7 linked regions of the Homo sapiens genome follow. The protein of the gene in region 2 purifies or fractionates together with the protein of the main gene of each other region. This does not show direct contact. Each region holds a gene or a part of one and is shown on either strand. Other genes may lie near its edges. The genes, in order: CASKIN2, SLC2A1, NUP205, HSP90B1, SLC25A4, ATP6V1D and KDELR2.

Evidence for each region.
Region 1: the proteins of SLC2A1 (region 2) and CASKIN2 purify together in Homo sapiens (affinity purification with mass spectrometry; one large-scale study listed by BioGRID and IntAct). This does not show direct contact.
Region 3: the proteins of SLC2A1 (region 2) and NUP205 purify together in Homo sapiens (affinity purification with mass spectrometry; 2 studies listed by BioGRID and IntAct, with this or other methods). This does not show direct contact.
Region 4: the proteins of SLC2A1 (region 2) and HSP90B1 purify together in Homo sapiens (affinity purification with mass spectrometry; one large-scale study listed by BioGRID and IntAct). This does not show direct contact.
Region 5: the proteins of SLC2A1 (region 2) and SLC25A4 purify together in Homo sapiens (affinity purification with mass spectrometry; one large-scale study listed by BioGRID and IntAct). This does not show direct contact.
Region 6: the proteins of SLC2A1 (region 2) and ATP6V1D purify together in Homo sapiens (affinity purification with mass spectrometry; one large-scale study listed by BioGRID and IntAct). This does not show direct contact.
Region 7: the proteins of SLC2A1 (region 2) and KDELR2 purify together in Homo sapiens (affinity purification with mass spectrometry; one large-scale study listed by BioGRID and IntAct). This does not show direct contact.

The regions. Positions count from the first base shown.
Region 1 is NC_000017.11:75,505,538-75,509,037, forward strand, and holds part of CASKIN2 (caskin-2), read right to left. Parts: intron 2,749-3,500; coding exon 2,697-2,748; intron 2,145-2,696; coding exon 2,047-2,144; intron 1,593-2,046; coding exon 1,447-1,592; intron 1,358-1,446; coding exon 1,262-1,357; intron 1,177-1,261; coding exon 1,046-1,176; intron 877-1,045; coding exon 768-876; intron 393-767; coding exon 284-392; intron 115-283; coding exon 20-114; intron 1-19.
Region 2 is NC_000001.11:42,931,369-42,934,868, forward strand, and holds part of SLC2A1 (solute carrier family 2, facilitated glucose transporter member 1), read right to left. Parts: intron 1-3,500. UniProt on the Homo sapiens protein: Facilitative glucose transporter, which is responsible for constitutive or basal glucose uptake. Has a very broad substrate specificity; can transport a wide range of aldoses including both pentoses and hexoses.
Region 3 is NC_000007.14:135,620,417-135,623,916, reverse strand, and holds part of NUP205 (nuclear pore complex protein Nup205), read right to left. Parts: intron 1,141-3,500; coding exon 992-1,140; intron 1-991. UniProt on the Homo sapiens protein: Plays a role in the nuclear pore complex (NPC) assembly and/or maintenance. May anchor NUP62 and other nucleoporins, but not NUP153 and TPR, to the NPC.
Region 4 is NC_000012.12:103,943,910-103,947,409, forward strand, and holds part of HSP90B1 (endoplasmin precursor), read left to right. Parts: intron 1-2,708; coding exon 2,709-2,787; intron 2,788-2,876; coding exon 2,877-3,032; intron 3,033-3,401; coding exon 3,402-3,500.
Region 5 is NC_000004.12:185,146,266-185,148,573, reverse strand, and holds part of SLC25A4 (ADP/ATP translocase 1), read right to left. Parts: intron 1,761-2,308; coding exon 1,603-1,760; 3' UTR 1-1,602. UniProt on the Homo sapiens protein: ADP:ATP antiporter that mediates import of ADP into the mitochondrial matrix for ATP synthesis, and export of ATP out to fuel the cell.
Region 6 is NC_000014.9:67,342,805-67,346,304, forward strand, and holds part of ATP6V1D (V-type proton ATPase subunit D), read right to left. Parts: intron 3,068-3,500; coding exon 2,964-3,067; intron 635-2,963; coding exon 568-634; intron 1-567. UniProt on the Homo sapiens protein: Subunit of the V1 complex of vacuolar(H+)-ATPase (V-ATPase), a multisubunit enzyme composed of a peripheral complex (V1) that hydrolyzes ATP and a membrane integral complex (V0) that translocates protons.
Region 7 is NC_000007.14:6,463,871-6,467,152, forward strand, and holds part of KDELR2 (ER lumen protein-retaining receptor 2), read right to left. Parts: intron 2,454-3,282; coding exon 2,201-2,453; intron 1-2,200. UniProt on the Homo sapiens protein: Membrane receptor that binds the K-D-E-L sequence motif in the C-terminal part of endoplasmic reticulum resident proteins and maintains their localization in that compartment by participating to their vesicle-mediated recycling back from the Golgi.

The sequences.
Region 1 (3,500 bases), on a different chromosome or scaffold from region 2:
CCTGCTTGGGGTCCCTCACCGTGATGACATCCCCTGCCCGGACATTGAGAGCAGTGGGATCGTGGAGGTTCCAGAAATCCTTGAGCGCTCGGACCTTCAGGATCCCTGAGGCCTCTAAGAAAACGGGGTGGGGGACAGGTGTCATCTAAGGGTCCTTAGGGCATCTTCCCACCCCTCATGCCCTTGACAACCCTCCCCCAGGGACGTCCACTCCCCCTCCACATCCTGGTACCACTTGAGCGGCCCCAGGCCCCCTGGGCAGGGTATCCTCCCCCGCACTCACCCCGCAGTAGCTGCTTGATTTCCCGGCTGGCCTGGGAGGTGGTGAACTGATTCACTATGTCCAGCGCCGTCTGGTTATACGTATTCCGGATGTTCACGTCCACACCTCCCTGGGTGCACAGTGTCACATGAGCACACGCTAAGCACTTTGACACCCCTCACCCGATTCTCTCAGCTACCCGGGACATAGGTACTATTACCATTTTCCGATTTTACAGATGAGGACATAGAGGCTCAGGGACTCAGTCAAGGACAAGCTCAAGTTCACTCAGCTAGTAAGAGGCAGATCTGGGGTGCCAATCAGGTTGGTCTGCCCCCGATCCATCTGCACCGCCTCGGCACCATTCAGAAGGAAGTCAGGCCTCTTTCCTGACGCCCATGCAAAAACCACGCTGGAGTCCTCCGTCCCGTACCTCCCCAGCCAGTCAGGGGCACAGGGCAGAGGCTCCATGGACACCTGCGAGGGAGCAGGGGCCCATACCCACCTCCAGAAGCAGCCGCACCACCTCGGTCTTGCCATACAGTGCGGCCTCGTGGAGCGCCGTACCCGTCTTGGTCTGGCGGTTGATCTCGATCCCAGCTCTCAGGAGCTGCCTGCAGTGGACGGGGGGAGTCACGGGGGAGGTGGCGTAGGAGGGGGTGCTGACTGCTGGGGGCCTGGGAGATGGAGAGCCCGGGTGAAAAGGGCAGTGGGGGAGAGCACTGAGGGGCACCGATGGTCCCGCAGGCAGGTGATGAGGAAGCGAGGGGACCCCAAGGGTACCTGATGACTTCTCTGTGGCCATTCTTGGCAGCCAAGTGCAGGGGCGTGGTGTAGTTGGGGTCACACGGGTCTTTGGCCTCACCCTCCAGCAGTGCCACACATAAGTGGCTGTTCAGAAGCAGCTGGGCCACCTGCAGCACCCAGTGCCCAGTTAGAGCCTCCTCCTGAGACCCTGTAGATGTCCAGGACCCAGCACCCCAAGGCTGCAGGCCTCACCTTGAGTCGGCCAAATTCACAGGCCAGGTCCAGGGGCGTCTTCTTGGCCTTGTTGACCAGGCATGGGTTGGACTGATGCTGGAGGAGCATTTCTGACTGGGGTTGGGGGAGCCGAGTGAGGGGGCCTGGCCTGTCCGGCACCCCACCCTGCCCTGCGCCACGCCCCTGTGGGCAGCCTCACGTACCACCTCATAATGTCCATACTGTGCAGCCAGGTGCAGGGGGATCTGTCCGTCCAGCGAGGCGGCATTGACAGCCGCAGAGGCGCGCAGCAGCAGCCTCACAGGCTCCAGCCGGCCCTGCCAGGCTGCGTAGTGCAGCGGGCGCATGCCTGGCAGGAGGAAAGGGTTTCTGAGGGAGGTCCTGGGACGGCGTTGGGGGTGGAGAGGAACTGAGCAGAGTACGGAGCCAGCCCAGCTGGGAGGGCAGAGAGCCCACGGGGATGCAATGCTGGCTCTATCCAGGTGTGCTTAGGAAGAGGTTCGGCTCGACAGGGCTGAAGCCAGAGTCCTGCTGTGCCCACTGTGGATCATGATGACCCCAGGACAGCAACAACACCTCGCTGAGCCTCAACCTACTCATCTGAATAATGGGATGTTAGTACCACTCGCCTATGCAAGAAGGCTGTGAAGAGTAAACGGGGAAAAGCCACTTGCAAGCCCAGAGACGCTGTGCTAGCATCTATTAGCATTGCTACGTTGTCATAGGAGCAAGCTCTGGTCCCAGGGTCTGGGTAGGGCCCCTACCTGCCCAGGGTGGGGGTCGGGGGCACATGGGGGTCTCACCATTGCTGTCCTTGATGTCAACAGTGGCCTGAGCCTCTAGCAGCAAGGCTATGAGCTCCAGGCTGCCCCCCAAAGCAGCGTGGTGGAGGGCAGAGAATCTGATGTGGGAGGACACAAAGTTAGGGGTGTTGGTGGGCAGCCCCCACCCCCAAATCCTGGTCTTCCATACCCGAACCTATCCTGGGGGCTGGCAGGGATGGGTTACTGGCCCCCCCAACCCCAGCAGCCCTGCCGTGGGAGCGCAGTGGCTGAGCCACAGCATGAAAGGGCTCAGTGTCTGCACTGAGAGGCCCGTTTGTCTCGCCCCCCCGCCTCCCAGCTGGCCCAGGGGAGGGGGCCGTGGGAGCAGGAGCCTGAGGGCTCCTACCCTCCAGGGAGAAAAGGGGGCCCCAAAGGAATCTGACCCCAGGAGGCCCTGCGGAGAGGCACCAGGGCCCCTCCCCTCACTCAGGGCTAACTCCACGGGCGGGCGGGTGCCCCCTCCCTCCAGCCCAGGGACAGGGCCCACAGCTCGCAGCAAATACACTTCCAGGGCCAAGTCTGAGAGGGAAAGGGACCCTGGGCCTCAGGATCTTTCCCTCCAGCCCCACCCCTGGGGCTCTACTGCCCCCACCCAGCAGCTCTGCAGAGGGACAGGGGCTCCCACTCACCCATCAGCATCCTGGTAGTTCACGTTGAGCCTCTTTGTGGAGCCCAGGAGCTCTAGGGGTCAGGATAGGAGGTGTCAGGGCCATCAGATGACTGCCCTCACTCAGCATCCCTCCCCCCACCTGTCACAGCCCGGCTGACCTCTTGGCGTGCAGGAAAGCACCTGCCCCATGGCCTTCCGCCTGTCCCGTCCCTGTGGCTCCCCACCCTGGCCCACCGGCCCAGCAGCATGAGGGCAGTGAGGGCAGGATGCTGCTGCGGCAGTGGGCTGGCTTCCCCTCGCCCCAGTCCCGCTTGTTTATAGAGCCAAAGAGGGCGGGGGGTGGGACTGGCACGATGTGCCCTCAGTGGACAGGCCCACGGTGTGCATGGTTAGCATTCCTGCCTGAATGGGCCAGGCAGCGAGTCATGTTGTCCTACTGGGCCGAGGGGTGGGGAGAGAGAAGGAAAGAGGCACTAGGTATTCAAGGGCAGGCCACGATGCCCAGTCCTGGGGCATCCCAGAGGAAGGTGACATTAGACAGACCTCTACCCAACACTGGCTCTGCCAGGCACCAGCTGTGTGACTGTGACAAGTCATTTAACCTCCCATGCTCAGTGTCCTCAACTGTAAAATGAGCTGATCAGAACCTGCTCACGGGGGCTGTGAGTACAGTGCCTGACCTTGTCATATGCAAAGACAGGAGCTCTCAACATCTAGCCCTCCTGACATGTGGGCAAATACCATCCCGATGTTAGGGCGATGGTCCTCCAACAAGAGCTGGCACAGGGCCCATACTGTCCCCACTGGGATCTCCATGGGTGCT
Region 2 (3,500 bases):
CTTTCCCCAGGCGAGAAACAAGGGGTTGGAGTTCATCTGAGAGCCCCGCCAACTCTCCCACTTCCCCTAACGTGTGGTTTCCAGTGCCCTGTGGTTTCACAGGCTCAGTGTGACTTGCTGGGATGATGGCAAGTGATCAGTGGTGGAAGTTCAGGCATAGAACAGAGAGGTACAAGACCAGGTGTGGTGGCTCACGCCTGTAATCCCAGCACTTTGGGAGATCAAGGCAAGCAGATCACTGGAGATCAGGAGTTCGAGACCAGCCAGACCAACATGGTGAAACCCTATCTCTACTAAAAATAAAAAAAAAATTAGCTGGACGTGGTGGCGCAAGCATGTAATCCCAGCTACACGGGAGGCTAAGGCAGAATTGCTTAAACCCAGGACACGGAGTTTGCAGTGAGCCAAGACTGTGCCACTGCACTTCAGCCTGAGTGACAGAGTGAGACTCTATGTCTCAAAAAAAAAAAAAAAAAAAGAGAAATACAGAAGGAAAAGGGTCTTCCCACTTGCCCCTTTTCTCCTCACCATGTCTCAAAGCCCCAGGGGCCCATCTCCTGCCATCAGGCCCTCCCCCCAACCCCTTGCTGGGGAGGAAGCAGGGCTTGACAGACAGGTTCCGCCATCCAGGAAGTACAGACTCCCTGACCGCACTGAGGGCCTGGTGTGACAAACTCACACATGTCACCCTTCAGAAGTGCTTGAAAGACTCACGCTGTGGCTTTCTGTTCCCCAGGCCTAGCTCCCTTGTGTCTGGCCTGCGAGCACCCCCTTGAAGGACCCACGGCCTCCTCCCCTCTCCCAAGGGCCCAGCTAGGAGGTATGGGGAAAGGTTCCACACAAGGAAGCAGTTCCAGGAACTGGAAACGCCCGTCCTAGGGCAGCCCTGCCCACCAGCCCTGCCCCCACCCTGGCCAGCTCCCACGGATGTGGTAGGCAGGCAGCACCCGTTCTGCCTGAGCACACTCACCACACTCTCAGTGCCATGGGACTGGCCAGACCCACCCAGCCACACGTATAGCAGAGTGCAGGCCCTAGTTACCCAGAAACGGCTTCTTATGCACGTATACCATCACACACACATACCCGTGCTCATAGAATCTAAATATTCCTGCTTTAGCCAGTCACAAACTCACATGCCCCTCATCCCCTACCACTTACAGCTCAAACTCAATTCCATGTGAACCCAACCCATCCCAACACCCCTCCGTGTGTGTGCATGCCACAGGTTCATGCACACACAGCGGTATGCAGCCTCTGCAGCCTCCATCACTGCTGTTGGTCCTCCCTATCCCTTCCAACCCACTGAGGTCTAGCAGAAGAAGAAGGTGTGGGCAGGCACACTTGCCAAACCAAAGCCTGCAGTCCCAGAAATGCCCACCTATTCAAATATGCTGGGCCTGCCTCCTGGTGCCTTCCTTCCCATTGCTGTGGGTGCTCAGCCTCTAGCCATCTTTTCCCCTGCCCTGTCACAACCTGTCCCAAGTCAGCAGGCATCTGATGGAGGCCAGGCTCCAAGGGGCGAGGACAGTTGGTAGGGCAGAGGCAAGCCCTAAGGATCTGCTTGTCCGTTCCAAGGACGCCATGCAGGGCAGTGAATAGAAACCTGAACTCTGATTCTGGACACAACTAAATTCAGGTCCTAGCTCCACCCCTTATTTCCAGTGTGACCATGAGCAAGTTATTTCATCTGTGAGTTTCCATGGCCCCATTTCTAAAGTGCAGACATTAGCAGGAGCTGCTTCACAGTGCTGCAGGGAATCAGTGAAACAGTGCTTGGTGTCATCATCCCTAAAATCACCCCACTGCACACTGGTGGCCTGAAGGCTGTGCAGACCACTAACAGAGTCTCCCCAAGCCTTCAACCCGTAACTCAAAATCGGGGCTCCTGCCAGGTATCAATCCAATCTCCCTACCTACCACACCTTTGCACTCACTACACACCATCTCCCACCCCTCTACGCCTTTGAGATGCTACTACTCCTGCCTGGAAGGTACCCCTGGCCTTATTGCTGAAACCTTTCGAGATCCAGGTTTCCCTGACTCCAGGAGTTTGTCTTCCCTGAGGAAGACAGTTGATTCACACCATGGTCTGTCCCAGAGCCAGTGCCAGGGATACCTGGTGAGGAAATGGAGGAATCGAACCAAAGGTGTTAGGCTCTCCTCTTAGAACCCCTTGATTCTGCTGGGGGCAGACAGAAGGCAGATTTTGACAAAAAACAGAGTAACAAAATGCAAAGTGTTCTTCTGTGGACGAAACTAACCCCAGAGGAGGACTGGTTGGGAACGGTAATGCCCCGTTTATCAGGCTCCACCAAGAACAGGCTGCTCTGAATGAGGGTGGATATGGGAACGGTCCAGATAAATGGCGCTTGCCCTTCTGAGGGTCCAATCTTTCCTGACCCATTATGGGGTGAAAATGTGAAGAGATTTCACTTTGCTCTCCTGAGCAACCAGACCTACAAGCAGGGCTGCAGGGCAATGGTGTCTGCCCTTGGGGCTCTCTCCAGGGGCAAGGAGAGGTGTTTGTCCCTGTGCAGACTGGCTCCTGATGGCTAAATTTCTGCATTCCATAGTTCTAAGGTATTCCCCCAACCCTCTGTGGTTCAGAGGCTTGTCTTGTACAACTCTCCACACCTCTTTTGAAATTTGCCAAGAAGTCAGCAAATGGAATTTGTTTGAATTGTATACAAAGAAAGAGTAAATAGGTGCTAAGTAAGGCTTGAAACTACCTAAATAAGCTTGAAGATCTCTTGAGATGTTGGGGCAACTGACAAGAGGGCTGTGTGTAAGTGAGGTGTGACCAGAGCTCCACCCTGAGTTACGTCTCCTGCCTGTGGTCACACAGTCAAAGGGACCCAACCTTGTCCAGGGCTGGCTCCTGGACGCTGCCTAGCTGCTCTGTTACTCAGACCACTTTATGGGGTGGAGGAAGGGTGAGCAGCCAGCTCTCTGCATGTTCACCTTGGCCTAGACCCATCCTCTCCAGCCCACAGCAGCACTTCCTGGCCAAGCTGAGGCTGGGGAGTGGGTTTCTGCCTCTTGATGCCTGAGATTTCTGGGAAGAAGCCACGCCTGGTTTTCCAATTCCTACTGCTGGTTCCGGTGCTCTGTGCCCTCTCCTCCCTGGGGATTCGTATGGGGTTCCACGCTGACTCTTGGCCCAGGAAAGGCAGGGGGATGCTGGAGAATGAGAAGAACCCTACATGGGGAAAAGCTCTGGGGTCACATCCTCCCTAGAAGTGTCTGGGTGCACCTCAGGAAAGAAGAGTCTACTTATTATGCCCTGACAGGATCCCACAGGCCCAATCCCGCCGGCTCCCAGCAGCCTCCGCAACCCTGGGTCATGTGTGAGGTGAGACCTGGCACGTGCCTGTTCTGAACGCTCCCACCTCACATGCCCGTCCCAAGCTTAGGATTTAAACACTTGATGCTGCCACCACCCCACATCCATCCATCACCAGGTCCTCTCGATTCTGCCTCCGAGTCTGTCCTACTTC
Region 3 (3,500 bases), on a different chromosome or scaffold from region 2:
CAGCTACTTGGGAGGCTGAGGCAGGAGAATGGCGTGAACTCGGGAGGCGGAGCTTGCAGTGAGCCGAGATTGCGCCACTACACTCTAGCCGGGGCGACAGAGCGAGACTCCATCTCAAAAACAAACAAACAAACAAACAAAGAAACGTAACTAAAAGGTTATGCCAGTTTATTTTTTAAAATCCTATTTCCTATGGTCTTCAAAAACATGATTTAATTGCTACATAATTTTGCTACATAATTTTCCATTAAGAAGAAGTTATCTTCTCACTGCATCATTACCAGTGTGCCACCATACTGTACAAGAAATATAAATACAAATTCTCCACAAAGCAATTAGGCAGACAAAGATCTATTCAGTACAAGGCAATTTATTCAGCATTCTCTTAACCAAAGATCTTTATTAAGCAGCGTTTCTGTTGTTTCTACCAGTCAACCTCAAAATTAGCAAGAAGATAATTCTGAAAGGCAATTCTGAATTAAGATTCTAACAAAATTAAACACAACATATGAATAAATAAAACAGAAGTCTCAAATTATAGCAAATAAGAAAATACAGTATATTATAAAAAATGATTCTTAATATGTACCATACATTATTAAAAGTTGAATCAATTTATTTTATTTTATTTTTTGCAGCAGGGTCTCACTCTGCAGCCCAGGCTGGAGTGAAGTGCCTCGATCACAGCTCACCGCAAGCAACCTCTGCCTCCTGGGCTCATGCAATTTTCCCACCTCAGCCTCCCAAGTAACTGGGACTACAGGTGCATGCCACCATGGCTGGCTAATTTTTTGTATTTTTTGTAGAGACGGGGTTTCACCATGTTGCCCAGGCTAGTCTCAAACTCCTATACTCAAGAAATCCACCCACCTTGGCCTTCGAAAGCACTGAGATTACAGGCATGAGGCACCACACCCAGCCGTGAATCAGTTTATACCTTAATAAGTCAAAATACTTATTCAATTATAATACTAAATAAGAGTTGCTTTACCCTTCCAATCTCATGACCATCACAAGCATCTCGACAGACCACTTCCATGAGGGCGGCGCCATAACTTTCAATAATGGCTATGTTTTCTCGCTGTAATTTGCTAAATACATCTTCAGGGGCTGTCAGCCTTTCCCACATGGTTTTCTTGGCTAAAAGGATTAAAACAGAAAAAAACACTCCAGTAAAAAGCAGTGTAATAACTGAGTAATTATACCTCACATGCTAGGTATGAGCTAAGGAAGAAAAAAAAAAAACGCAACAAAAAAATCCTTCCATCACTGCTTGTACACAAAGGCCCACTGACCGGTGGGTCCAAGCAGGTTAACTCTAATAACACAATGCACCTATTTCATGCATGTTTCATAACACTAAGATAATAATTGTACCTGGAAAAGGATAAATCATTCTGAAAGAGATCAAAATGAATTACAAGACTCCATGAGAACCAACGTCCTGTATTTATCCTGCTCATCAGTCTTTTTTTTTTTCCTTCTTTTTTTTTTTGAGACAGAGCCTGGCTCTGTCTCCAGGCTGGAGTGCAGTGGCATGATCTTGGCTCACTGCAGCCTCCACCTCCCAGGTTCAAGCGATTCTCCTGCCTCAGCCTCCCCAGTAGCTGGGACTACAGGTGCATGCCACCATGCCCAGCTAATTTTTGTATTTTTAGTACAGATGGGGTTTCATCATGTTGGCCAGGATGGTCTTGATCTCCTGACCTCGTGATCTGCCTGCCTTGGCCTCCCAAAGTGCTGGGATTACAGGTGTGAGCCACCGTGCCCAGCCGCTAATCAATCTTTTATCTTTTATTGAGATCTTTTAAAATTGCCAGGCGTGGTGGCTCACACCTGTAATCCTAGCACTTTGGGAGGCCGAGGCGGTGGATCACTTGAGGACAGGAGTTCAAAACCAGCCTGGCCAACATGGTGAAACCCCGTCTCTACTAAAAATACAAAAAATTAGTGGGGCGTGGTGGTGCACACCTATAATCCCAGTTACTGGGGAGGCTGAGGCAGGAGAATCACTTGAACCCAGGAGGTGGAGGTTGCAGTGAGCTGAGATCGCACCGCTGTACTCCAGCTTGGGCTACAGAGTGAAGCTCTGTCTCAAAAAACAAAAGAAAAGAAAAGAAAATTTAGCTAGAAAGGATCAGGTACAATGTAGACAAAAATTTGCCTCCAAAAAAATCAGATATTTTTATTCTTTTTTTTAGTTGAAATACTTATTAAAAATAAAAGCACACCTATTATAAAAATAAAAGCACAACCATTATACAATGATTAGGAACAGTATGATCATACATTTTATGTAAGACCCACAAACATACTCTTATGTGAGACTCTTTAAAAATTTCACAAGTACATTAAATAAAGCAATAACTTGTATTGGAAACTAATCTCATTTTTTCCAACTGCTACATAGCAGCAGTTTTTAAATTGGCATCTTGATGACTTCTTATAAAAAGCCTATTGTAGAGCCCCACCTAGTGGTTAAGTGGTGACTTGGCCAATTCAACTAAATGGAATGTTAAGAAAAACACACACACAAAAGAAAAATGTGGGAGGTGCTGAGTGGAGAAATCCCATTACTATCTCTTTTCTTAAAAGAAGCTCATGTTTGCTTAAAAAACTTCTCTAAACTATTCTGTTATTTTTCCTCATCTTACAAATATTCTCATGCATTATTTATGTGGGTGCTACATGCCTATAAATCTACCATTTGGCTATTACTACCTTATAGGGTACTATGTATGGCATAAAATACAACCACCATAAGGATAATGAGATCAAGTCAACCTTACGTACACAGTGGTTTTTAACAGTGTATACAAAATAACACTCACAAAGGTGAAGAGCCCAAAGAAAATCCATTATCAGAAGGTGCTCTGACAACTTCTTAACAAATGGCAGAATAACTCTGAATAACTTGATTGAACATCAAATGTCTATAAAGTATATAAAGCATTATATACTGATGTGTTGAACACTTAATAACATTTTCATGTCTTAAGATTAGTTTCAATTAAAAATGCTAACTTTTTAGAAAGCAGCATTTAGCAATATTTTAAATGTGCCTAACTTTTGACCAAGAAATTCCACTTCTTGGAATTTATCCAAACAAAACCTCACTAGTACAAAAAGATACATGTATACTATTGATGAGTTTATACTGGAGAAGGTCATTCATTTGAATCTTTTTAAAATAAAAGTACATACTTTTACACATGGAAATTCCACCATTAAGCAGTATCCTTTTTGAGAAATATAGGCATATAAAAAAAGTTGATGTAGCATTTTTGTAATAAAAATTTAGAAACAATTGAAATGCCTGTGAATAAGGAAAATGGCAGATAAGTGTTTCATCCATATCATGGAATAACAAAGACTTTTGTGTTTCTTTTTGAGACAGAGTTTCACTCTTGTTGCCCAGGCTGGAGGGCAGTGGCGCAATCTGGGAAACCTCTGCCTCCTGGGTTCAAGCGATTCTCCTGCTTCAGCCTCCTGAGTAGCTG
Region 4 (3,500 bases), on a different chromosome or scaffold from region 2:
GCCCCTTACCCAATCTTTGTTTTGGAGATAATACCAGCTTCAATACAAAGAGTAAAATTGCCTTAAATGTCTACCACTGTCTACTATAAGGTAGACAACAAGTTTACGAAGGGATTTCTCCTACATTTGATTGAGAAAGAAAAGGTCTTTGACTCATGATTTTCTGATTTTATTGTATTTGATATGTAAATGGGAATTTTCTTAATGTGTTATGCATAGTCTTTACTTTTGCATTGGATTATATGCTTAGCCTAATATCTGAATTTATTTTACATTTTTAAATGTAATAGCTGCACGAGGTTAATGACAACATTCCTCAAGTGAGTTAAGTCCATTTCAAATCACGTCCCCCACACCCCCAAGCATTAAATTATGGGTATCCAGATAGAATGTCTCATAAAGTAGACGGTACAGGACCTGTGAATTAACAGTATTTGAACTCAAGGGCCTATACCTGGAGGTATAGTGAGTCTTTGGTACTCTTTATTTTCAAGAAATATAGTATTTCAAGTTTATGTTTTAATGTCACAGCAATGATCTTGAAAATGACTTCTCCCCTACTTTTATTCTCTCTTCTTTCACCTGGAGTATGTTTCTGATATGCTATCTAGTCATCATCCTTTTTTCCCAAGGCCTAGCTTAAGGATTCTTTTTTTTTTTCCCCCGAGACAGAGTCTTGCTCTGTCACCCAGGCTGGAGTACAGTGGCGCAATCTCTGCTCACTGCAACCTCCGCCTCCTGGGTTCAAGTAATTCTCCTGTCTTAGCCTCCTGAGTAGCTGGGATTACAGGCACCTGTCAGCACACCCGCTAATTTTTGTATTTTTAGTAGAGACGGTGTTTCACCATGTTGGCCAGGCTGGTCTCGAACTCCTGACCTCATGATCCGCCCTCTGCGGCCTCCCAAAGTGCTGGGATTACAGGCGTGGGCCACTGCGCCTGGCCAGGATTATTATTCTTAAAGCCTTTTCTCACAAATGTAGTCTCCATTGTTGTCACAATTCTAAAATTCCATATATGTCTTTTAACTATAAATTTCATGCAGAGAATAGTGTTCTGTTTATCTGATATCCCATTGCAATAGTACAAGGGCCATTTAAAACATGTCCACCTATTAATTTCAGGAAATGATTAATAGGAAGTTACCTTGCATCCAACAAACATGAAGACTTACTATGTCCATGCACTGATGGTCACAGGTAGACATAACTCCTGTCTTTTCTAACATTTAGACTAGTGAAAATGACAAATCAAAGCCAGGCATGGTGACTCACTCCTGTTGTCACTCAGGAGGCTGATGCAGGAGTATCAGTTGATTCCAAGAGTTCGAGGCTGTAGTGTGCTGTAATGGCATTGCACTCTAGCTCTAGCCTGGGTAACATAGCCAGACTCCGTCTCTTTTTTATTTAAAAAAGAGGAAAAAAAGCAAGTCATAATCCGAGCCCTACATAGATAATGGGTACACCAGGATAGGGAAGGATGTGGTTCCTCCCTGTCCTCAGAGCTTTAAACTAGAGAAGAGAGAATAATCACAACCAACAGTAAAAAGCTAAGGATTTTGAAGGTATATTCAAAATGCATTTGGAACTGAGCTCAGATAAAGTTAATTTTTCTTGGAATCATTGGCGAAGGCATCGTGGAGAAGGTATTATTATTGGAGCACAATCCAGAGGCTACATAGATTTTTCTGAACTTGGGGAGGCAGAGCTACAATTACGGTAGTAAGAATAAACTAAGAGGGAACAAACAGGACATTAAATCAGTTCGTCTGTTCAGCAGTGCTCCAGGTACTTGGGACTCATCAGTAAATAAAATAGTTCCCTTCATTTCATTTTTCATCTAACCGTGTCCACTTGCTCCCCACCCCACCTCCCCGTTAAAAGGGAGCAATACAGGCTGGGCACATGGCTCACGTGTGTAATCTCAACACTTTGGGAGGCTGAGGTGAGAGGATCACTTGAGGCCAAGAGTTCAAGACTAGCCTGTGCAATATAGTGATACCCTGTCTCTATAAAAACTAAATAAGGAAACAGTGCAGTCATCCCTTTTTGTCCATGGGGTGTTGGTTCCAGAACATCCCATGGATACCAAAATCCACACATAGTCAAGTCCCTTAGGTAAAGTCGTGCCGTATTTGCATATAACCTATGCACATCTTCCCATGTACTTTAAATAATCTATAGATTACTTTTAATACCTAATGCAATTTAAGTGCTATGTAAATAGCTATTATACTGTATTGGGTTTTTTATTTTTTTCTTGTTTTGCCCTTTCTAATATTTTCAATCCGAGGTTGATTGACTCTGCAGATAAAGTAGACTGGAAAAGTACAGTCGTCCTTAGGTGTATGAGGGAGATTGGTTCTAGGACCCCTGCCAAAATCCACAAATATTCTAGTCCCCCAGTCTGCCCTGTGGAACCCGTGTATATGAAGAGTGGGAGCTCTGTGTGTGTGGATTCCACATCCCAAGAATACGGTATTTTCTATCTGAGTTTGGTTGCTGAACCTGCACATACGGAGGGCGGACTGTATTTATTGGAAAAAAAATAGCATATAAGTTCAAACCTGTGGTGTTCAAGTGTCAATAGTACATTTTGATTTTTTTTTTTTACCAAGAGTTGTTCTGTGTAATTATGAAAGAATAAGGGAAACGTATGAACCCTAAAATTGGATATGTTTTGTTAATGTTCATTTTTATCTCTTAACAGTTACTATGCGAGTCAGAAGAAAACATTTGAAATTAATCCCAGACACCCGCTGATCAGAGACATGCTTCGACGAATTAAGGTAGTATTAAAGCAGTCCTCTTGCTTGTCTTTTAATTTGAGTACTTTGTATCTTTTAATATTAATCTAGTGCATCTTCTTGCATTTCAGGAAGATGAAGATGATAAAACAGTTTTGGATCTTGCTGTGGTTTTGTTTGAAACAGCAACGCTTCGGTCAGGGTATCTTTTACCAGACACTAAAGCATATGGAGATAGAATAGAAAGAATGCTTCGCCTCAGTTTGAACATTGACCCTGATGCAAAGGTTTGTATCCCCAACCTTCCCGCAAAGGCTGGCTGGCTTTCTTTGTTTCTGTTCTTTCAGAATAGGCCTCTCATGATTGAGGGATGTAGCTTTGCGACATTTGCCTAATTTCTACCTTTTGAAAGAATTTTATTGAATGTTTGAATCCCTGTAGTGTCAGGCACTGCACTAGAAACTAAGTCCTCCTTTTACGTCCTCTTTCCTTTTTGCCTGCCTCCTTTTGTTAGCTTGGCTGTTCATTCTAGTTAAGAGGATTTAGTCTGTGGTTCTGAATAAACAGAAGTGACATTAATTATGATTTTATACATATAAATGAGCAAAGTGGAAATAAATCCAAGGCATTAATGGGCCCATAAATGTTGTGTTTAGGTGGAAGAAGAGCCCGAAGAAGAACCTGAAGAGACAGCAGAAGACACAACAGAAGACACAGAGCAAGACGAAGATGAAGAAATGGATGTGGGAACAGAT
Region 5 (2,308 bases), on a different chromosome or scaffold from region 2:
TTTCTTTCAAAGCCTCCATCTCCTACCACTCCCTCCCCCCATTTCATTTCCCTTCTATTCCTTCTCAAGCAAGATGTATTGTCTTAAACAAATTGTCTAACAATGGAATTTCACCTTTTCTCCCCAACTGAAGCATCTTTCAGGGCAGGTTCCTATCTATTTTCCCTTCCACGGGGCCTAAGAGGTATTAAATACTAGCTTGATAAGTGATGCTATGGACTGAATGTTTGTGTCCCTTCAAAATTCATCTGTTGAAATCTTAACCCCCAAAGTGGTGGTGTTTGGAGGAGGGGCATTTGGGAGGTAATTGGGTCATGAGGGTAGGGCCCTCATGAATGGGATTAGTGAGCTTATAAAAGGGACTACAGAGAGCTCTGTCGCTCTTTCTGCCATGTAAGGATACAAGAAGTCCGTAGTTTATAACCCAGAAGAGGGCCCTCATCAGAACCTGACCACAGTGTCACCTTGATCTTGGACCTCCAGACTACAGAACTGAGAAATAAGTTTCTGTTGCTTATAAGCCATCAGTCTACAGTACCTTGTTATAGTAGCTTAAACTAAGACAACTGATTTTCTTTCTTTTTTTTTTTTTTGAGACAGAGTCTTGCCCTGTCGCTTAGGATGGATGTGGTGGCATGCCATCTCAGCTCACTGCAACCTCTGCCTCTCGGGTTCAAGTGATTCTGATGCCTCAGCCTCCTGAGTAGTTGGGATTACAGGTGTGCGCCACCACACCCAGCTAATTTTTTGTATTTTTATTAGAGATGGGGTTTCGCTCGGTTGGCCAGGCTGGTCTCAAACTCCTGGCCTGAAGTGATACGCCCACCTCTGCCTCCCAAAGTGCTGGGGTGACAGGTGTGAGCCACTGCACCTGGCCTTGATTTTCAATGAATACTCTCTACTTAACATAAAATTCTAGGTGTCACAGTTATCTAAAGGGATGAAAACAGAGCACTTCCTAATCATAGAAAATTCTCCAGATTGTGATTTAAAACTTTTAGCAGAATCTTAGAATTTCTAAAGACTGCAGGAAAGTGCCTAAGACAAGGCAGGATTATGAAAGCCATTATCACTTTCTAGCCTACAGTAATGCTGGATAAGATAGATAGAATATGACCTGCCTAAGTTTGAAAACCGGAACTTTAAGCATTGTACGTTCTCATATAATACATTCTCAATATAATATCTGGCATTTAGAAGCTTGGCTGCTGACTGATACATGAATCATGCTAGAAAATATGCATTTTTGATCTTTTAAAAATGCATTTTACAGTTAATAAGAGTTCAATAAAATAGAAAGCGTGCATTAAGTGGTCTTTATTGATGTTTCACATTCAGTTATTATCAATTCTTCAGTTAATTGTACAAGTATGATAAATTATTTTCTATTTGCTGTGGGAATTTAAATGTAAAATAAATACAAAATACATGTGTGGTTTAATGAACACTCAATGAAGCATCTCTTCTGAGGTATTCCTTTCAGTCTGGTTTTATCCCAGATCTTTTTACTTCCCCTAGGAATAGTCTATTAAACCACACAATGGATCTGTGAACTTGTAGATCAAGTTCACTGTAAATCTGTGAACTTGTGTTTTAATTACATTAGACATATTTTTTGATCTCATCATACAACACCAATACAAAAGCACCGCCCATGCCTCTCAGCACATTGGACCAGGCACCTTTGAAGAAGGCCTTGGCTCCTTCGTCTTTTGCAATCTTCCTCCAGCAGTCAACTGTCCCCGTGTACATAATATCGGCTGTGGAAACAAATGCTGGTGAGGGCTCCGTAACGCTGGAGGAAAGAGACTTTTCCCCTGAAACATATCTGTACACACTGTTACCAGTTTTATAAAATCAGGGTCATCTGGGCATGGAGTCCCAGCTCCATGCAACATCCCACTGGACATCTCCTTCCTTGCTTCACTGGCAGGCTGGGTCTCCTGTCATTCCTACTCCATTAGTTCAAGGTCAGTGAAGAACTGGGGCAATTAACCAAGTAATTCATGGACTGCCCAACTGCGAAACAAGAAGGGCGCAGTGGAGCAGGAGTATTATGCTACGCGGTTACCTTTTTTTATGGAGGACCGAACTGAGGCCGAGCCTCAGATGATCCTGCACGAGGTTATGCAGTCTAAATAAAAGGCTGTAACTATTCGTTGAAACATACGAAACTGCTAACATTGGACTGTTTTTGACTTTTAAAGTGGCAATTTCGTATGGTTCAACCTATAGAAGCCAAAACTTTCTCTGGCACAACAGATTGCTTCAGGCCATCTCTACCCAGCTAAACACCCCATCCCACTAA
Region 6 (3,500 bases), on a different chromosome or scaffold from region 2:
TTACTTCAAATTTTGCTTTCTTACCTAAAATTGAGTGTTTCTTTAATAAAAACTAAGTTTATTGAGCAAAAAGTACCATCAACACTAAGCAGTCATATTTTTTAAATAGTGAAATAAAAGAGATGGAAAATAAGTGCATCAAATGGGAAATTTTTTAGAAATCAAGGAGAATGGCTTATACTGATTTAAAGTTAAATATTTAATGTACTCAAAAAGTTGCATCACTCAACCATTAGAAAGAACTACAGAAAACACTAAGGATCTTGAGAAATATTCCTACCCTTAAATAACTGCATGAATAACTGGAAATGAAGAAAACATTCCATAATTTTTAAGTCACCACTTTCCTATGTGTGTAACTCCCCCAGATCATACAAGTACTTCTATCAGAACACTTCATAACACTTTTTTTTTTTACTATGGACACACTTCTCTCTTTGCACTGTGGGCAAGGGAAGCATCTTATTCATCTTTCAGTCTTCAGTACAGTCCCTGAATTCTAGCAGTTTCACGACAAGTGGAGGGTATGGACAAGTGACAAAGCACCTCACAGTACCTAATACTCACCATGTTCAATGGCATTTACACGCCTGTTGGTTATCTTAATAGCTTCATCCAAAGTAACAAAAGAAGTCTAAAATAAGAACAAATTAATAATGTAAGCACAAAGTCTTCCTAATCATTCCCTGATCACTTGACTCCACTAAGACTGCACTTGTAGAAAACATTTGAGAACCAAGACAACTTCTTTTTGGCATGCTTAAAAAACAAAATTCTTAGGCTGGGCGCATGGCTCACGCCTATAACCCCAATACTTTGGGAGGCTGAGGTGGGAGAATCACTTGAAGTTGGGAGTTCAAGACCAGCCTGGGCAACACAATGAGACCTTGCCTCTACAAGAAATAAATTTTAAAAATTAGCTGGGTGTAGTAGCATGCACCTGTAGTCCCAGCTGCTTGGTAATCTGTGATGGGAGGATCGTTTGAGGCTGCAGTGAGCTATTACTGTGCCACTGTACTCCAGCTTGGGTGACAGAGTAAGACCCTGTCTCTTCATAACAAAACAAAAACAAAATTCTTGTGAGATTTCCATAGGGCTAACACTATTTCCATGCTATTGATAACCTACATGTCACATTTGGTAGGTTTCCAAATTAACCTGCCTGGGCAGATTGAGGGATCTTATGATTCATGGTTTACATCCTGTCCCTGAGTAAGGAAATCTTAAGTTTCTCAGACTGCTGACATACTGATTAATATGCAACCTACTGACGCTGAAAATGACACTGATTTGTTTCTGATTCATGAAGTTTTACTTCATGATTTACTTGCATGTAGAACATTTTAGCTTGTATTTGTAATCTGTAGCCAATGATTGTGACCTCTGTATTGTACTCGCCAATGAAAAGGACAACTTGGGTATGAGGAGTCCTCCCTTCTCCTAAACTTTCCCATAAAAGCCTTCCAACTTGTAGCAGACTCTAGAACACACCCAACTTTGTTGGTGTCTTCCCGGGTCAATCCTCACATTTGGCTTTCAATAAACCTTTATCAAATCATTTCTGCTTCAACAGGCTTTACTTGAGTTGACACTATTATAATTTGTTTACTATAGTCTCACCTAAATAACAACATAAAAATGACAAGAAAGAATCAAGCATTAATAACCTAGATATATACTAACTGGCCACATAGGGGAAAAAATGGTCTTCCATGCACAAACGATGTTTATTTACATTTACATTTAAATCTAGTATCAACTTGCTATTCTTACTTAGCAAAGAGTGAAACTGGGCTGGGTGAGGTGGCTCACACTTATAATTCCAGCACTTTGGGAGGCTGAGATGGCAGGATTTCTTGAGGCCAGGAGTTTGAGACCAGCCTGGGCAACGTAGCAAGACCTCATCTCAACTAAAAAATTCAAAAATATTATCCAGGCGAGGTGGCACAAACTTGTAGTCCAAGCTACTTGGGAGGCTGAGGCGGGAGACTGCTTGAGCCCAGGAGATCCAGGCTGCAGTTAGCCAAGATCGCAACACTGCACTCCAGCCTGGGCAACAGAGCAAGATTCTGTCTCAAAGAAAAAAACAAACAAACAAACAAAAAAAACAAGAGTGTACCATAGCACATACATTTTGTTAACAAGAAGAAGCAGGGGCCGGGTGTGGTGGCTCATACCTATAATCCCAGCACTTTGGAAGGATGAGGCGGGCTGATTACTTGAGCCCAGGAGTTCGAGACCAGCCTGGACGACATGGTGAAACCCCACCTCTACAAAAAATACAAAAATTAGCTAGGTGTGATGGGGCATGCCTATAGTCCCAGCTACTCAGGAGGCTGAGGTGGGCGGATCACTTAAGCCCAGGAGGTTAAGGTTGCAGTGAGCTGGGATTATGCCACTGCACTCCAGCCTGGGTGACACAGTGAGACCCCATTTCGAAAAATAAATAAATTTTTAAATTAAAAGTAGGGGCCAGGTGCAGTGGCTCATGCCTGTAATCCTAGCACTTTGGGAGGCCGAGGCGGGTGGATCACCTGAAGTCAGGAGTTCGAGACCAGCCTGACAAACATGGCAAAACCCTGTCTCTACAAAAAATACAAAAGTTAGCCAGGCATGGTGGCACATGTCTGTAATCAGCTACTTGGGAGGCTGAGGCAGAAGAATCACTTGAACCCAGGAGGCAGAGGTTGCAGTGAGCCGAGGTCGCGCCATTGCACTCCAGCCTGGGCAACAAGAGTAAAACTCCATCTCAAAAAAATAAAAAATACATAAATTTTAAAAAGTAGGGACAATGGTACAAAAGCCATCACTTCAGAAATCAAAATATTATGTTTGCTTTACATAGGATCATGGGAACAGTTAAAAGTACAAAGCACAGTATATGCTGACTCAAGACCTGACTCTCCTCCACTTGACTGTTACAAATCAAACTACAGGAGTTCTCCAGGTCTTTTGCTACTTACCTGCAGAGAAGCTAGTTCCACCAGTAGTTCCACTGCTTTGGCATAATTCCTCTTTAATTTAGCCAACTGTTCCCCACCTCTGGCTAAACCAGTCAGTTCATAACCTGAAAGGACCAGTCAGACAACATTTTTAATTAGAGTAAAATATCTTCCCTATAAAATTCCCCAAAAGGAGATAATTCAGAATAATAACAAATATGGAAAGATGAATTCACTAATCTTCATTGAATGTAAACATGAAGTGCCTATCTCACTCCCCAAACACTATAGGAGCATGCTACTAAATACAGTTTCCCACAAGAATACTATTCTAAATATAACTACAAAGGAAGCTTTTAACCAACCTTCACTTCACTAGCTTGATGCCCCTTATTCCCTTTGAAAATCATACTGCCTGATGCCCAGAGTACGATGACACTCTGTGAACAGGTGACTCTCTCTAGAATGCTCTACTTCTTCGTATGAAATGTACTTAATATTCTATATGATTTAATTAAATATCACATGAAGCAAGGAAATACAAGTGCCAAAAGAAAG
Region 7 (3,282 bases), on a different chromosome or scaffold from region 2:
GCCAACATGGTGAAACACCATCTCTAATAAAAATACAAAAATTAGGCTGGGCACAGTGGCTCATGCTTGTAATCCCAGCACTTGGGGAGGCTGAGGCAGGAGGATCACCTGAGGTCGGGAGTTCGAGACCAGCCTGACCAACATAGAGAAACTCCATCTCTACTAAAAATACAAAAATTAGCTGGGCGTGGTGGTGCATGCCTGTAATCCCAGCTACTCAGGAGGCTGAGGCAGGAGAATCGCTTGAACACAGGAGGTGGAGGTTGCGGTGAGCCAAGATTGTACCATTGCACTCCAGCCTGGGCAACAAGAGCAAAACTCTGTCTCAAAAAAAAAAAAAAAAAAAAAAAAAAAAAAAAAAAAAAAAAAGCTAGGCGTGGTGGCTCACGCCTGTAATCCCAATACTTTGGGAGGCTGAGGTGTGCGGATCACGAGGTTGGGAGTTCAAGACCAGCCTGGCCAACAAGGTGAAACCCCGTCTCTATTAAAAATACAAAAATTAGCCGGGCGTGGTGGTGCGCACCTGTAATCCCAGTTACTAGGGTGGTCAAGGCACGAGAATCACTTGAAGCTGCAAGGTGGAGGTTGCAGTGAGCCGAGATTGCGCCACTGCACTCCAGCCTGTGTGACAGAGCAAGACTCAGTCTCAAAACAAAACAAAACAAAACAAAATTAGCCAGGCATGGTAGTGCGCGACTGTAATCTCAGCTACTCGGGAGGCTGAGACAGCAGACTCGCTTGAACTTGGGAGGCAGAGGTTGCAGTGAGCTGAGAGCAAGCCACTGCATTCTAGCCTGGGTGAGAGAGACTCGGTCTCAAAAAAAACAAAAGGAAAGAGATAAGACATATATGCTCTTTTTTTTCTTTTTTTTTTTTTTTTTTGAGACAGAGTTTTGCTCTTGTTCCCTAGGCTGGAGTGCAATGGCGTGATATCAGCTCACTGCAACCTCTGCCTCCCGGGTTCAAGAGATTTTCCTGCCTCAGCCCCCCAAGTAGCTGGGATTACAGGCCATGTGCCACCACACCCGGCTAATTTTGTATTTTTAGTAGAGATGGGGTTTCGCCATGTTGGTCAGGCTAGTCTTGAACTCCTGACCTCAGACGATCCACCCATCTCGGCCTCCCAAAGTGCTGAGATTATAGGCGTGAGCCATCGCACCCGACCTATATATGCTTTTTACCTAGCAATTCCACCATTAGGAATTTTATTGTATAGCTGGATTTTTAGCCTGGGATCTGTGGTTGGGTTTCAGGGGCTCCTGAACCCCTCAAAACTATATACATGCATTTGGGTGCATTTGCGTAAATATCTTTTTTTTTTTTTTTTTTGAGAGAGAGAGTCTCGCACTGTCACCCAGGCTGGAGTGCAGTGGCGCGATCTGGGCTCACTGCAAGCTCCGCCTCCCAGGTTCACACCATTCTCCTGCCTCAGCCTCCCGAGTAACTGGGACTACAGGCGCCCACCACCACGCCTGGCTAAGTTTTTTGTATTTTTAGTAGAGACGGGGTTTCACGTGTTAGCCAGGATGGTCTCGATCTCCTGACCTCATGATCCGCCCGCCTCGGCCTCCCAAAGTGCTCGATTACAGGCGTGAGCCACTGCACCTGGCATAAATGTTTTTTTTTTTCTGAACAAGGATGATAGCTTTCATCAAATATTTGTAAAGTTCACACGTCCTATGTTCATACAAATGCAAAAACACATATACACAAGGATGCTGATTTAATGACTGGATTTTAACAGCAAACCAGTAACGGCCTGACCACCCATGAATGGGGGCTGGGTAAATAAATTATGGTACATGCACATAATGAAACACTCTGTGGCTACTGAAAATTATGTAGATTTCTAGTGACATGAAAAATGTGAGGGGATAAAAGCAGTGTATAGAACAGCAATGTACAGTTTAAGTCATGTGTCTGTGTATGCATAGAGAGGTATCTGGTGTTAATGTTCACTGAAACACCAGATGAATCTTTTACAGTGAAAATGTGTCACTTTAGGAAAAGCTATTGCAAAAGAAAAAGGGTTCTTATATTTAAAAAGACAACATCCTGATCCAGAATGTTATTGGCCAATCATGAAAGTGTTTCTCTGGAGCCAGTTTATGAGAGAGTGCCAGATTAGAAGAGTGCTGGGCAAGGGCACTCCTAAAAGAACACGTCACTCTAGAAACAACGCAGGTCGCACCCAACATACCTTTTGTAATGTACAAGTAGAAGAAGTCACAGTATAGGATGGTCTGGACTACGCCGGCCACCACAGCAATGAGGTCAAAGAAGCCCTCAAAGTAGAAGCGCCAGATCCAGTTGACAAGATACAAAGCACGATAGAGGCCCAGGAAGAACAGGTAGTGGGTGGTGATGGTCTCGGCCTCCCCAGTCTTGCTGATCATAAATAGCTGCGGAAGGATAGCCACGGACTCCAGGTAGATGGAGAAGGTCCAGAGGATCTGGAAGAGAAATGGCAAGCTTCCATCACGACCCACTGCCCACCAGGAGCTCAGAGGAAACACTCTTGCTTTCTTTACCACAAAGCAGCCTAAGATGAGTGGGGAGTGGGGCATGTCGGCCCAAAATAGAACAACAGCTTGGCAACTGCATAACCCAGTGGTCCCAGCCTTTTTGACACCAGTGATCGGTTTCATAGAAGACAATTTTTCCACAGACCAGCAGGGTGGATGGATGGTTTCGGGATGATTCAAGCACATTGCAATCATTGTGCACTTTACTTCTGTTATTACTATAATATACAATGAAATAATTATACAACTCGTCATAATGCAGAATCAGTAGGAGCCCTGAGCTTGTTTTCCTGCAACTAGATGGTCCTATCTGGGGGTGATGGGAGACAGTGACAGATCATCAGGCATTAGATTTTCATAAGGAGCATGCAACCTAGATCCCTCAGATGCACAGTTCACAATAGGGCTCATGCTCCTATGAGAATTGAATGCTGCCAGTTATCTGACAGGAGGTGGAGCTTGGGCAGTAATGTGAGTGATGGGGAGCAGCTATAAATACAATGAAGCTTCACTTGCTCACCCACGGCTCATCTCCTCCTGGGTGGCCTGGTTCCTAACAGGCTATGAACCAGTACCAGTCAGTGGCCCAGGGGTTGAGGACTCCTGGCATAAATCACAGAAACTTAAGCAACCTTTAAGAGGCAAGGCACTGCCAGTGTGACAAGCTGGGTAACCTGGACACCTCTACCTCTTTGAATTTTCATCACCTTGTCTCTCCAGGTTTATTCTTCCCTCTTCAATTTTCTATGAATCTACA